2 separate regions of the Homo sapiens genome follow, and region 2 is linked to region 1. The links come from fine-mapping of genetic effects on gene expression. Tissue or cell type: whole blood. Region 1 holds a variant in brackets; the other region holds the start of a gene. All regions are shown on one strand. Distances are from middle to middle.

What was found. PIP is the estimated chance that this variant, and not a neighbour inherited with it, causes the effect.
Region 2: it holds the start of SGK1, and the variant in region 1 is fine-mapped to the expression of SGK1 in whole blood (INTERVAL, PIP 0.97).

Annotation. Positions count from the first base shown.
Region 1 is chr6:134,214,062-134,221,231 of GRCh38, reverse strand. All of the region lies in intron 2 of SGK1 (serum/glucocorticoid regulated kinase 1), which reads left to right. Among named protein-coding and RNA genes, the nearest start is that of SGK1, 100 kb to the left of the region's middle. The variant C/T (reference allele first, on the strand shown) is at 4,256.
Region 2 is chr6:134,314,271-134,321,440 of GRCh38, reverse strand. It overlaps SGK1 (serum/glucocorticoid regulated kinase 1), which reads left to right and starts at 3,329. Exons shown (of 14, transcript NM_001143676.3): 1 at 3,329-4,049. The coding sequence starts at 3,981. RefSeq lists an enhancer at 3,502-3,781.

The sequences.
Region 1 (7,170 bases):
CCCAGGTTCAAGCAGTTCTCCCATCTCAGCCTCCCAAGTAGCTGGGATTACAGGAGCCCACTACCACGCCCAGCTAATATTTGTGTTTTTAGTAAAGACAGGGTTTCACCATGTTGGCCAGGCTGGTTTCGAACTCTTGACCTCAGATGATCTGCCTGCCTCGGCCTCCCAAAGTGCTGGGATTACAGGCATGAGCCACTGCGCCTGGCCTGAGCAAACTTTTTTTAATAAAATTTTTTTTTTTTTTTTTGAGCCGGAGTCTCACTCTGTTGATCAGGCTGGAGTGCTGTGGCATGATCTTGGCTCACTGCAACCTCTGCCTCCCGGGTTCAAGTGATTCTCCTGCCTCAGCCTCCAGAGTAGCCGAAACTACAGGCGTGGGCCACCATGCCTGACTAATTTTTGTATTTTTAGTAGAGATGGCGTTTTGCCATGTTGGCCAGGCTTCTATCAAAAAATTATATCTCTCCCGAGAGGAGTATATGACTCCATCTAAGTCATTATACTCCTGTTGACATGTTGATGGTACAAAATGGATAATAATAACCTTTACCAATTATTAAAACTTAGAGGCCCTAACCCTAACCCTAAACTGAACTCTAACTTTGCCAATTTTTCCAATAAGGAGACTACAGCTAAAAGATATTAACTAATATCCCAGGGGCACATACATAGTCAAGTAAATTTTAAGTTTTACTTAAATTTTCTCTAGGTCTGTCTGACACCAGAGCTCATGCTCTAAACTGCTATATCTAACTATTTCTACCAACTCCGCTCTAAAATAAATGCAAGGAGGCCTCTCTTAACCACAGTAGATGTACTGTAAATAACATATATAACTTCTATCTGTGTAGCCTTCTGTAAGCCACTTGGCCTCCCTCAGAGTCTGTTTTCCCATCTATTAAATAAGGGAGCTGAACTAAGTCATCTGTTAAATATCTTCTAGCCACAAAATACTATGATTCTGTGATAGATTAACTTTGGCTACTTTAACATAATTTGACTCCTACAAATCAATGATGTGGTCAATAAACATGCATTGATTACCTTTTCTCTGGATCAGGCAAAATCTACAAAACACCATGCCACAAATAATTTTTACTTAATAATTTAATTATATGTGTTTTTCTTTTCTTTTCTTTTCTTTTTTTTTTTTTTTTTTTTTTTTTTTTTGAGACGGAGTCTCGCTCTGTCGCCCAGGCTGGACTGCAGTGGCGGGATCTCGGCTCACTGCAAGCTCCGCCTCCCGGGTTAACGCCATTCTCCTGCCTCAGCCTCCCAAGTAGCTGGGACTACAGGCGCCCGCCCCTACGCCCGGCTAATTTTTTGTATTTTTAGTAGAGACGGGGTTTCACCGTTTTAGCCGGGATGGTCTCGATCTCCTGACCTCGTGATCCGCCCGCCTCGGCCTCCCAAAGTGCTGGGACTACAGGCGTGAGCCACCGCGCCCGGCCTCTTTTTTTTTTTTTTTGAGACAGAGTTTCGATCTTGTTGCCCAGGCTGGAGTGCAATGACGCAATTTCAGCTCACCGCAACCTCTGCCTCCCTCATTCAAGCGATTCTCCTGCCTCTGCCTCCCTAGTAGCTGGGATTACAGGCATGCGCCACTACGCCCGGCTATTTTTATATTTTTAGTAGAGACAGGATTTCTCCATGTTGGTCAGGCTGGTCTCGAACTCCCAACCTCAGGTGATCTGCTCGCCTCAGCCTCCCAAAGTTCTGGGATTACAGGCGTGAGATACCGCGGCTGGCCAATTATATGTTTTGATATAGAATGCAAACAATCTAGATATCTTGGCCTGGCATAGAATCTCAGGTCGAAACTCCAATGCCTGCAGAGCCAGGAGGGAAATTTAAATAGGCGAAGTGGAAACGGGTGTTTGGACATGGCTCTGTGTCAACTCAAAACAGCCATTTTAGGGCCAGGCACGGTGGCTCATGCCTGTAATCTCAGCACTTTGGGAGGCCAAGGCGGGTGGATCACTTGAAGTCAGGTGTTCAAGACCAGCCTGGCCAACATGATGAAACCCCATCTCTACTAAAAATGCAAAACAAAATAAAAAACCAGAACAGAAAAGAAAATTAGCTGGGCATGGTGGCACGCACCTGTAATCTCAGCTACTCAGGAGGCTAAGGCACAAGAATTGCTTGAACCTGGGAGACCGAGGCTGCAGTGAGCTGAGACCATGCCACTGCACTCCAGCCTGGGCGACAGAGCAAGACTCTGTCACAAAAACAAAAACAAAAACAAAAAAACAGCCATTTTAGTACATTGAAAAGCTGTGTTCCATTGTAACCTAAATGTGTTATGTGTTTTAACTGAAAAATGCAGATGTGCCATCATTGATTCTGGTGATATTATTGAAAAAATTAGGTAAGATGGACTCCCTTAAAGAATCTAAAATGACCACTTATCGCCTCACTCCTTACTCATGTGTCCGTACTTATTGCCTCCATAGCACCCACCTCAACTACCAGCATCAGAAAACAAGTTCTGACCGGGTGCAGTGGCTCACACCTGTAAGAGTGGCTCACACTTTGGGAGGCCAAGGTGGGTGGATCATTTCAGGTTGGAAGTTTGAGACCAGCCTGGCCAATATGGTGAAACCCTGTCTCTACTAAAAATACAAAAATTAGCCAGGCGTGGTGGTGGGTGCCTGTAATCCCAGTTCCTTGGGAGGCTGAGGCAGGAGAATCACTTGAACCGGGGAGGTGGAGGTTGCAGTGAGCCAAGATCACCACTGCACTCCAGCCTGGGCAACAGAGCCAGACTCTCTCAAAAAAAAAAAAAAAAGAAAAAAAGAAAGAAAAGAAAACAAGTTCCATGAGGGCAAGATCTGTCTGTCTGTTCACACCTATGCCCATGGCTCCTAGCACTGTGCCTATTGTATAATAAGTTATCCACAAATATTTATTAAATGAATAACTGAATAAATTTCAAGATTGAGGATAAATTTGAGTTTTAAGAAACCCGTATCCGTTCTCAATTGACATCTTAAAATGTAACTCAAGACATGGACTCCAGCCCTTAATTGGTCCCTAACACAAGTTACGTTACCCTCTGGACCTCGATTGTCTCAACCATAATGCAAGGGGGGAATTAATAAAAGACCCCCTTCAGGTCCCCAAATCTCTGATCCTCTGAACTCTACTAGTTGTGTAGAATATAGAAAACATTTGATTTAATAGACATTTGACCTGAATATCTTGACCTTGTGTAGACCAGAGTTTAAATTCAAGTGCTTGCTGAGCCAGGCAGGAAACATAAATAAGTGAAGTGGGTTGGGTGGTGAATTGCCTTAAGCTGTTTGCAATTACAAAGGCCAAACTGAAAAATATCAAAATAAAAAAGAATGCAAATGAAATAAAACCACAAAAGGAGGAACATCTGACTAGTTGTTTGGAATCACAATCTCTTGTGGGGTCAAGTATTGTTCCTAGGCCTCATGTTATATAAATGTGATTAATGTTAAGCAATTGAAGAAGGATAAATCATTAGCTTGCAGAGATCAAGATGATAAGACTCCTGATCTCTGACCCTGCATTAATCTCTTGACCAGACTCCTGCTATCCTGGTCCAAACCATCATCTTTATGAGCGTGGCGGTTGATGTACCAAATTTGCAAACTATGGGCATGTTTGCTGTAGTGAGATAATGTGGCCACATTCCATCTTGACCGGTGTGGTGTGAAGTGGAGGACTGTAGCCCAGGGACAAAGGCATGAGAAACCCATTCGACTGTGTGAGTGAAGCCCACCACCCAGGATCCAAAGGCAGTAGTGGTCCGGTGGGTCAGAGATGGAGCAACTGCTCTCAGGAAGCCCTCAGCCAAGCACAGGAACAAGGGCCCACACGCATTCTGCAGGCCTGCCACACTAGTCTGAGCACAGAATGCTGTGCTTCCTCCTGTTGCTGGAGCTCGTGGACAGCTTTGACCCTCTATGACCATCTGCCTGGTCACCAAATTCCAAAGCCATGAAATGTTTTGGATTCCCCCATCTTCCCTAGTTTTCAGTCATTCTTCAAGTCTTGCAAAGCATTCTTCTAGCTGCCCTCCACACCCATCCCTGCCTTTTCACTTTCAGAGCTCCCATGTGAGTTCGTGCTCTGTCAACTCCCTGTTGTTATAGCAGTCCCCTGATCCCCTCAGCTCCTGTATTCTTCAATTCTGGTCTTTCCTGCAAACTGCCAAGCCTTCTGAATTTCCATGGCATGAAGAACACATTGACATTTAAAGCCTTCCACCATGTGGCTT[C/T]CAATGATTTCGCCCATGAGTCTTGCACTCCCATGGAATTGCTCAACCAAGTGTTGCCCAAATGTGCCTTGTTGAGTTTTGTTCCCACACCTTTGTTTGTGCTGTCCCACCCAGAGAGGACACCCTTCTACCGCCTCCTCACCAATCCAAATGGTGCCAGTGTTTTTAAAAGCCTGTTCAGGTTCTACTTCCTCCCTGAAGCCTTGCTCAACAACTTTGCCCATATTATTGCTTCCTTCTTTAAACTCTGACAAAACATTAGCTCTACCGCATACTTCACATTTAGAGGTACATGATATCGGGTTCCAGATCTGTTTTGTTGATGTCTATGTTCTGCTCCTCAATCCAAATACAATGTCTAGGGAGCAATGAGTTAGCAACTAGGGTAGTAGTTTCTTAAAACAAATGCTCAGTAAATACTGTTGAATGTGATAAGCCCATCTAAGACAGTCAATGGAAGAAGACTCTTTTATCTCATAGATACAAAGAACTGAATTCAAAATTACTATTTGCAAGACGGTATTATATCCTATGATACCAGCCAGGGGCCATTTCCTAAAGCCTCACTAAAGCAATTTGAGAAGCAAGCTTTCACTTCCCTAGAGATAAAGTATTTTTGCTACTTTTGGTCATGCAACTTGAGAGATGAGAAAAACAACTTCCCTGCCTAATAGGAAACAAGCATTTTGAGAATTTCTTTTGTATCTTAGGAAGAACTAATGACTTTAGCACAAACTGCTAAAGTGATCCATGGAAAGCCATATGCAAATTATTATAAACCAAAAAGGAATCAGAGACAAACCCATATTTTATATTTTAGTTCTCTATCTTCATCAGAGGTGATTTTAACATTTCAACCTGAGAAAACTGATTTTTTTATAAAAAGAAAAAAAGTTTTAAAAAATTTATGCATACGTGAATATATTTATTTTGTTGAAGAAATGTTCTTTTTTTGTTTTTAGAGATGGAGTCTTGCTCTGTCACCCAGGCTAGAGTGCAGTGGCGCGATCTCAACTCACTGCAACCTCCGCCTCCTGGGTTCAAGCGATTCTCCTGCCTCATCCTCCCAAGTAGCTGGGATTACAGACATGCACCACCACGCCTGGCTAATTTTGTATTTTTAGTAGAGACGTAGTTTCTCCATGTTGGTCAGGCTGGTCTCGAACTCCCAGCCTCAGGTGATCCACCTGCCTCAGCCTCCCAAAGTGCTGGGATTACAGGCGTGAGCCACCACGCCTGGCCTAATTTTTATATTTTTAGTAGAGACGGGGTTTTGCCATTTTGGCCAGGCTGGTCTGGAACTCCTGACCTCAGGTGATCCGCCCACCTCGGCCTCCCACAGTGCTGGGATTACAGGCATGAGCCACCGCGCGCATGTGCTCACTGCCTGGAGTAATATTCTTTAAATAAGGATGAACTAGAATGGAGACAGAGGACCATAACTGCTTTTTTTCCCTACCAATTCCACCACAATTCAACTTTCCATTAACTGGAAACAATTCATGGAATTCAGACTACATCTTATTTCTGACATCAGTAGAACTATTAATAACTTACTCTCGGCCAGGCGCCGTGGCTCATGCCTGTAATCCCAGCACTTTAGGAGGCTGAGGTGAGCAGATCTCTTGAGGTCAGGTGTTCGAGACCAGCCTGGCCAACATGGTGAAACCCTGTCTCTACTAAACATACAAAAATTAGCCAGGCATGGTGGCAGGCGCCTATAATCCCAGCTACTCAGGAGGCTGAGGCACGAGAATTGCTTGAACCCAGGAGGCGGAGGTTGTAGTCAGCCAGCCACTGTACTCCAGCCTGGGCAACAAAGCTCTCTCAAAAAAAAAAAAAGAAAGAAAGAAAGAAAACTTACTCTCATGTTTATTTTCCAGATTCTCTGCAAAACTTCTGGACAACTGACATCTCCCTAAATGTGATATTCTCATACACCCCCATCTTCTGATGTTTAAATTGTAACCTATGACAATACTTCTAGATGTCAAAACAATAGTGATTAAACATTCAACGGTTACCTTCTAAATATGATCTTTCTTCCACTTACCTAACCCAATACTTTCAAGTCTATCAGACAAGAAAAATCTCTTTCTACCTCCTAGGACTCATAGAAAATAAGTTGAAAAATAGTAAGACTTCTGTTAGAAAAATAATTTTTAAAGATGTCCCCCCACCCAAAACTTCTAGAAGCCATGAGGATTTAAACAAGTGAAGCCAAGGTCCACTGATTTTTAGGGGGCTTACAGTTTGAAATGGTATCTTTTAAATTCAAATTTTATTCAAATTATTCTGTCTGCAGAATACTGCACATATTCTGTTTTTCAGAATGTACATGCTGTCATTTATTAAATAACTAAACTTTAATTACTTTCATTAATTTTTTTTTTTTTTGAGACAGCGTATCCCTCTGTCACCCAGGCTAGAGTACGGTGACTCACTGCAACATCCGCCTCCCAGGTTCAAGGGATTCTCCTGCCTCAGCCTCCTGAGTAGCTGGGATTATAGGCATGCGCCACCACACCCAGCTAATTTTTGTATATTTAGTAGAGACGGGGTTTCACCATGCTGGCTAGGCTGGTCTCGAACGCCTGACCTCAGTTGATCCGCCTGCCTCGGCCTCCCAAATTGCTGAGATTACAGGCGTGAGCCTTAATTTTAATAAACATAATTATTGTTGAAATTGTTAGTTGTGATAATGGCATGGTGGTTAGGCAAAAAAAAGTTGTCAGAAACACATTCTGAAGAAATTATAAACCTTGAGTGGTGGCTAACACCTAATCTTAGCACTTTAGGAGGCCGAGGTGGGAGGATTGCTTGAAGCTGGGAGTTTGAAACCAGCCTGGGAAAACAAGTGAGACCCCGTCTCTACAAAAAAAAAAATTTTTTTTAATAACTTACAGATAATTGTT
Region 2 (7,170 bases), 100 kb before region 1:
AGGCTTAAAGAGGAAATGGTGAGGAGTGAGGTCGTTTGCTCTTACTGGAGCTCAGCATATTGGCTATCATGGGAGAGAGCTTAATGACTGAAGAATCTTAAAGGTATTTAATGATTCCTGCAAATGGTCTGGTGCCAGGGTCACTGATGTCAGCTATACTTACTTTTGTATTTAATTCGTTTGAAAACCATTTGTTGAGTGCTAGCATGGCCCAGGCACTCCGCTGTGTGCTGGTGCTACAAAAATAAATAAGTGTGTTTTATGGGAACAAGAAGTGAGTTAATTAATTAAATTAAGTTTGATTTATAAACAAGATGTTGCATGAGTCCAGAGTTTTTTTTTTTATTATTATAAGCAGGAGCCTGTGCTCCTTTATAGGTATCAACAGTGGACCTGTCAAAGGAAACATTTAGTAAACAGTAGTCACTCTGGGCTTACCTGAGGGCAGCTTTACTTATGAAAATAGAGGTCAGAGTGAGATGAAAGATGCCTTCTTTTCCTGAATAACCAACACAGTGCAGTTAATGCATTTCTCTATTATTGCACCAATCAAAAGATAATCCAAAATAATTGGCTGTCAGATATAGTCAGAATCCCTGCCCTATACTTCTCTTCCTTCATCTGACTGACCTACTCATTCTTTAAGGCCATGCACTAACATCATCCCTTTAGGTAAATTTCCTGGACCTCTCTTACCCATCCAGCCCCACCCTTCCCCCCTCCAAATTAAGGCAGGGTTGATGCATACACACCACACACACACACACACACACACACACACACACACACACAGAGTAGTACACTCTTATCCATGGGGGATACATTCCAAGACCCCCCCCATGGATGCGTGAAACTTCAGATAGTACCAAACTCCATATACATTATGTTTTTTCCTGTACATACATACCTATAATAAAGTTTAATTTATAAATCAAGCACAGTAAGAGATTAACAACAATAGTAGAATAATTTTAACAATGTACGATAATAAAAATGATGTGACTGTGGTCTCTCTCTGTGTCTCTAAAAGTATCGTATTGTACTCACTGATTTTCAGACCATTGTTGACCTTAGGTAACTGAAACTGTGGAAGGTAAAACCTCAGATAAGGGAGGACTACTGTATATAGTATTCTTACCACACTGTATATTTCTCTACTAGGCTGTGAGTTCCTTGGTGACAAAAACCAGTGACACTTACATGCACTGGACCTTCCATAGGATCTAGCATAGACCAAGTGACAGTGGCAGCATCTTCAAGAGGTGGCATGGAGTGAGGGAAAAGATAGCATTTAGCTTGTCTTCTCCTCCCTCATAATCTCTATTAACCACCCGCCTGCACCCCAAATGAACATACATCCTACATGAAACCAGGGTATTAGTCCGTTCTCACACTGCTAATAAAGACATAGTGAGATGGGTAATTTATACAGGAAAGAGGTTTAATTGACTCACAGTTCAGCATGGCTGGGGAGGCCTCAGGAAACTTACAATCAGAGCAGAAGGGGAAGCAAACACATTCTTCTTCACATGGCATCAGGAAGGGGAAGTGCTGAGCAAAAGGGAGAAAAGCCCCTTATAAAACCATCAGATCTCATGAGAAATCACTCACTGTGGGAACTACAATTCAAGACGAGATTTGGGTGGGGACACAGCCAAATGATATCAACCAGTATGCATGCTAGGCCAATGTGGGATTAAGCAAAGCCCCAGCACCTCCTTCCTAGCAGAGTGCTTAAAGGTCCCCTCCTGTATATTACTCAAATTCAATAAATGTCTGTTAAAACACTTTTGGGGGAGTGGCAATGGGACGAAAAAGAAAGAACTTGAATGACCATCATTTTTTAAAATGAGGTCCATTGAGGTATAATTTACATGCAGCAAAAGTTTCCCTTTTCCTATATAAAATTTGATGAGTTCTGACAAATGCATAGTTATGTAACCACCACCATCATCATGATAGAGAACACTTCCATCGTCTCAAAATAATTCCCTTTGAACTACCATAATTTTAAATGAACTCTTTAGAAGAACCACAAAAACTTATCAATGTTGTAGATTACATAACATATACTTGCATCTTGGACAACTTAACATATCTCTCCAAAATGAATAGTTGTTTTCCCTTGGTTATCATGCCATCATTTAGTTGTATTGCATTTTCTTTTTGGAAACCTCAAGGCATTTAGCAAACAGGATTTCATGTTTATTCCCAAAAACTCTGGCCCAACTGTAGAGATTTATAGTCCAATTCAATGAAACCCATGCATTTCTTTCCCAGTTTAACCTGATGTTTCTCTTCTTACCAGAGACTTCCATGTAAATACTTTAACAATGTTAGGTGTGTTATATATAATGAGGTCATAATCAGTTTCAAATTAGCATTGCGCCTTTCACTTATTTATCAATTATATTCCCTTGTGATGATTATGAAAAGGCTCCACATCCTGAGGACACTTGTCAGAGTTAGATTTATTAATGGAATGAAATAGCAAATAATGAATGACTAAATAAATGAATGAGTGAATGAATGAATGAGTGGCTGCCTCCATTTTATGGATGAGGCAGTGTCCGAAAGGCACAGTGAGGTCAGGTGATGGCAGAAAGCCACACACCGATGTTGGTGGCTTTCTGCCAGGTCAGATGCCAAGTTTATTTTCTTTGCTTTCTTGCTTTACTATCAACTAATCTTTAAAATCATTCCCATAAAATATCAACATTAAAGAATAAAAATGGAAAAATAAGCCACATACAATTAAATGGCTTTTTTAAAAGGAGCTCAGTGTGCAAAGGATAACATGAGTAAGGATTTTTTGGGAAATTTTTCACCTAATAGGAAGAATGCTTTACTCTTTTATTTATCAAACCTTCCTCATCATTAAATGGATTCAGTAGTACTTTTTGGTAATAACTCGTGTGTGTGTGTATGTGTGTAATAAAGTACTTTGTATATGTTCATTGTGTTCTTTTTTTAATAAGCTGTTTTAATGAAAAAGACACAATTACCGTCACCATTGCCCACTATATAATGACAAGTAGGGGAGGGGAGGCTAAAAGAGCTTCTACATAGTGAGAGATCTTCCATTGTTATACCTACGCTTGCACTTTATTTCATTTTCTTCCACGTTTGGACAGGTCGAGATTAAATGTGATTACATTTCCGTTGAGAGGCTTTTATTCAGCAACAGGATTCAAAAGAATGTCAATGAGCATAAAATAAAAACGGTGTGCAATTTATATGAAACTCTGATTTAAATGGTCCTAACCAAAAAAAAAAAAAAAGAAAGAAAGAAAAGAAGCTATTTAAAGTAACCCTCCCAAGGGGAGTCAACTGCTCTTCAGTGTGCCCTGAGCCGGCTGTGCCTTCTCTCCATCCGCTGCTCAGATATTCATGAACCGTTGCTTCTTCCAGCCTCGCCTTCTCGCTCCCTCTGCCTTTCTGGCGCTGTTCTCCCTCCCTCCCTCTGGCTTCTGCTCTTTCTTACTCCTTCTCTCAGCTGCTTAACTACAGCTCCCACTGGAACTTGCACAATCAAAAACAACTCTCCTCTCTCAAGCCGCCTCCAGGAGCGCATCACCTGGAGAAGAGCGACTCGCTCCCCGCGCCGGCCGCGGAAGAGCAGCCAGGTAGCTGGGGGCGGGGAGGCGTACCCTTCTCCCGCTCGGTAAGAGCCACAGCATCTCCCCGGAGATTGGCCGTATCCCACCGTCCGGCCCCCAGGGTCCTGCAGCGGTGATGCATATGTTTCGGAGCAATGATGGAAGGAGAAAAGCCGCTGTCGGTGGCAACTGAAAGTGGGGAGAGGTTGCTGCAGTAGCTGGTGCTGCAGAATGCGCGAGTGAAGAACTGAGCCCCGCTAGATTCTCCATCCCGCTCAGTCTTCATTAACTGTCTGCAGGAGGTAAACCGGGGAAACAGATATGCACTAACCAGGCGGGTGCCAACCTGGATCTATAACTGTGAATTCCCCACGGTGGAAAATGGTAAACAAAGACATGAATGGATTCCCAGTCAAGAAATGCTCAGCCTTCCAATTTTTTAAGAAGCGGGTAAGGACAGGTTTTGCTTATTTCTTTTGTTTTCTGTGCTTCTCTTAAATGCTTTTGAATGTTTGCCTGAAGTAAGCCTGAGGTTTTGTTGCTAAACCCTTAATGTAAGCCGTGCTTCTGATGGCAGTGGTAAAGCTGAGAACTATACCTGACTTGATTAGAATTTGTTGGAGGAGGGGCAGGGGGCTATGAAGAGTTGCATTGGGAGGAGGGGGTTGGGCTGAGATGCCTTAAACGGGTTTGAGCTGGGAATGGGGATTTTTCTCTCTCAAGCCACAACAAAGATTACAAGGCAGTCGCAAAGAGAACTGGCTTGAGTACAATTATGGCTAGTAATTTAGTCAGGGGCTAATTTAGCAGCTTCCTCTCATCTTTGAAGGGTTCAACTTTTCTACACCTTTCATCCACTCAGTCTCAAGTGATGCATTATCATCTTCGTTCGTCAGAAGCAGCAGCTTCTGGTTTCCCAAATCCATTCAGCCAATAATTTGCTGTGTCTCTATCTGTGGTATAAATAGCAAAGGAGTAGAATGACCTTTTACAGAAATGATGGAATCCAGCATTTAAAATTGTCTATTTTAAGTTGCCTCAATTTTTGCTTTTGCTTAGAATAACTGCCTTTTTTTTTTTTTTTTTTTTTTTTTTTTTGGGAGAGAGCAGTGGGAGGTCTGTATTTGAGTGATAATTCAGGGTTATGTTGCTGTATGCATTTATTTCTTAAACTCCTTATTCTTCAACTCAAAGTATGAATAATGTTGCATTGGTTGTAGGTGAGAAAAAAGGATTTTTTTGCATGTATATTTCACAATAAACTCAGTTCACTGGGATGGCCACACTGGTGGTCTGTGTAAATCTGCAAATTTATACACAAGCGGGAGGTAAGAAATGAATGATTGTTAAAGGAATGACACTGACACTCTTAAGGACAGTGTTTCCTAAGCAACGTAAGAGAAGGAACATCCTCCAGTCCCCAGTTGCCCCATCCTATTTAATACCCTAGGGCAATTCCACCAAAATGGTTCTCTCCATTCATTCCTCCTTCCTTTCATTCAGGTCCTTTCTGTGCCACTCCTGAAACACAGCCCTTCAGTTAACTCATCCGCAGAACACAGTGAATTTCAGGGTGGGCTGGACTATCTCCCTGCACCAAATGGGCAAGCTGGGAAGGCAAGGCTAGAAATGCAGGCAACATGTCAGGCCCAGCTAGAGGGCCAGCGAAGGCTCCCAAGCACCCTTGACTGAGTTCTCATCAGTAAAGCAAAATCTTTCTCCAAGTCTGTGGGCCAAAGCATATGCATTCAAACCAAAATGAAACCAACCTGTCCTGGCCCCTGCTCTTGGAGTGGGAGTACCATGTGAAATCTCACTAGTGAGCTGCAAGCTAAGTGAAAGCAAGTCAGTGCAACTTCACAGAGCTCCACAAGGCTTCTTAGTTTTTCTCTGTAGCTAAAATATTTCTTTCCAAGGGAAGAGCCCTTTATGAAAATTAATTTTCTTTCTTTCTTTTTCTTTTTTTTAGAGACGGGGTCTTGCTATATTGCCCAGGGTGGTCTTGACCTTTTGGGCTCAAGTGGTCCTCCTGCCTCAGCCTCCCAAATTGCTGGGATTACAGATGTCCACCACCAGGCCCAGCCCTAATTTTCAATAATAAACAAATGTTTTGCTAATTTTAAAAATGCCATAGCCCATTATCCAGTATTTAAACTCTATTGCCTTTTAATTACTGTATTTATTTCATGGTATTGGGGATATTCTAAAACTCCTCAGTCAGATGTTCTTAAGCAATGTAGATTTAAGTTACATAAATTTTAAATTGTCTTTTATTTTCTTTGTTATCAAAATGTACTAATAGAAATACTAATTTGCCATTTGGTTTTGTTTTGCTTAAAAGCAAGTTTACCAATAGACTTCAGTTGGTGACTCTGCAGACCTTGAATTTTGCAGAGAACCACCCAGGGTACTGATGTCTTATCTGAGTACATGCAGAAAGAAGTTTCTACCAAGATAACTGGCAGGCAGCTTCATCTAACTTCTAACCTGGGTCTATCAGTTGCTGGAGACAGGATCAGACATCTCTCCTGCCCCTGCGCTCTCCTTACTCCTCAAGGACAGTTAACTAAGTAGAAGGTGACCTTGTATCAAGTCATTGAATGCCCCAGGGATAAATTCTTTGATTTTTGTCTACTTTGGTTTATTCCACAAATTCTGTATTCTAAATGTTTATTTCTGCTTGTACATGACTTTGCTTTTTTTGTTTGTTTGTTTTTAGTTAAACAATATGTAAATACATCTATAAAACATTAAAACAATAATAAGGTATATCCCACCTCCTCTCCAATCTTTCTCCCTTTCCCAGATGTAGTAACTGTTACCATACTGATGTTTATACTTTCCAAACTTTTACTTCACATACACATTCATATACTACAATGCCTTTGTTTGCAGTTCAGAATAATTCATTTTCTTATATTCTATTGTTGAAGTTCCACACATTTCTGCATATTTTATTTTTAACCTAGCTAGACAGTCTTACAAAGTGAACCTTTGTCCATAGCCCACATTAAACTATGAATAGATTTTGGAAAAAAAAAAAAAAAAACCATAGGGTCTATTAGGGCTAATTAAAAAGAATGATTTTTGATTGCAGGAGGCTTAAACAGTGCTTCCTATGCTTCTGAGACATTCCAGAGGGAGCATAAGAAACTGAAGGAGAATATAGGTTATCTGCCCTTGTAGCTGTCTGTCAGTCACTATTTATTAGAGCTGACTATGTTCTGGGTAGGAATGCTTTACATGTATTAGCTCATTTAATATTCACAGTAACCCTATAAGGTAAGAAACATTATTAAATGTGCAAAGTGTGACTTAGAGAGATTAAACCATTCGCCCAAGGTCACATAACTAAAAAGTAGCAGAGCTAAAATTTAAACCTTGTTCAACTCAAAGCTTGTATACGTAATCCAGACTTTTTGATTTCAGACCACTCTCCCCTTCTTTTCTTTTAGTTTCCACAACAGACTCTTCTGTCCCCCTACCCCCCTCCCCCAACCAAGTGAAATCTTTATGCCACTACCAAAAACCTATAAAAGCGGCCAAGCCTCTTCCAGCTCCTTTCTAGTCC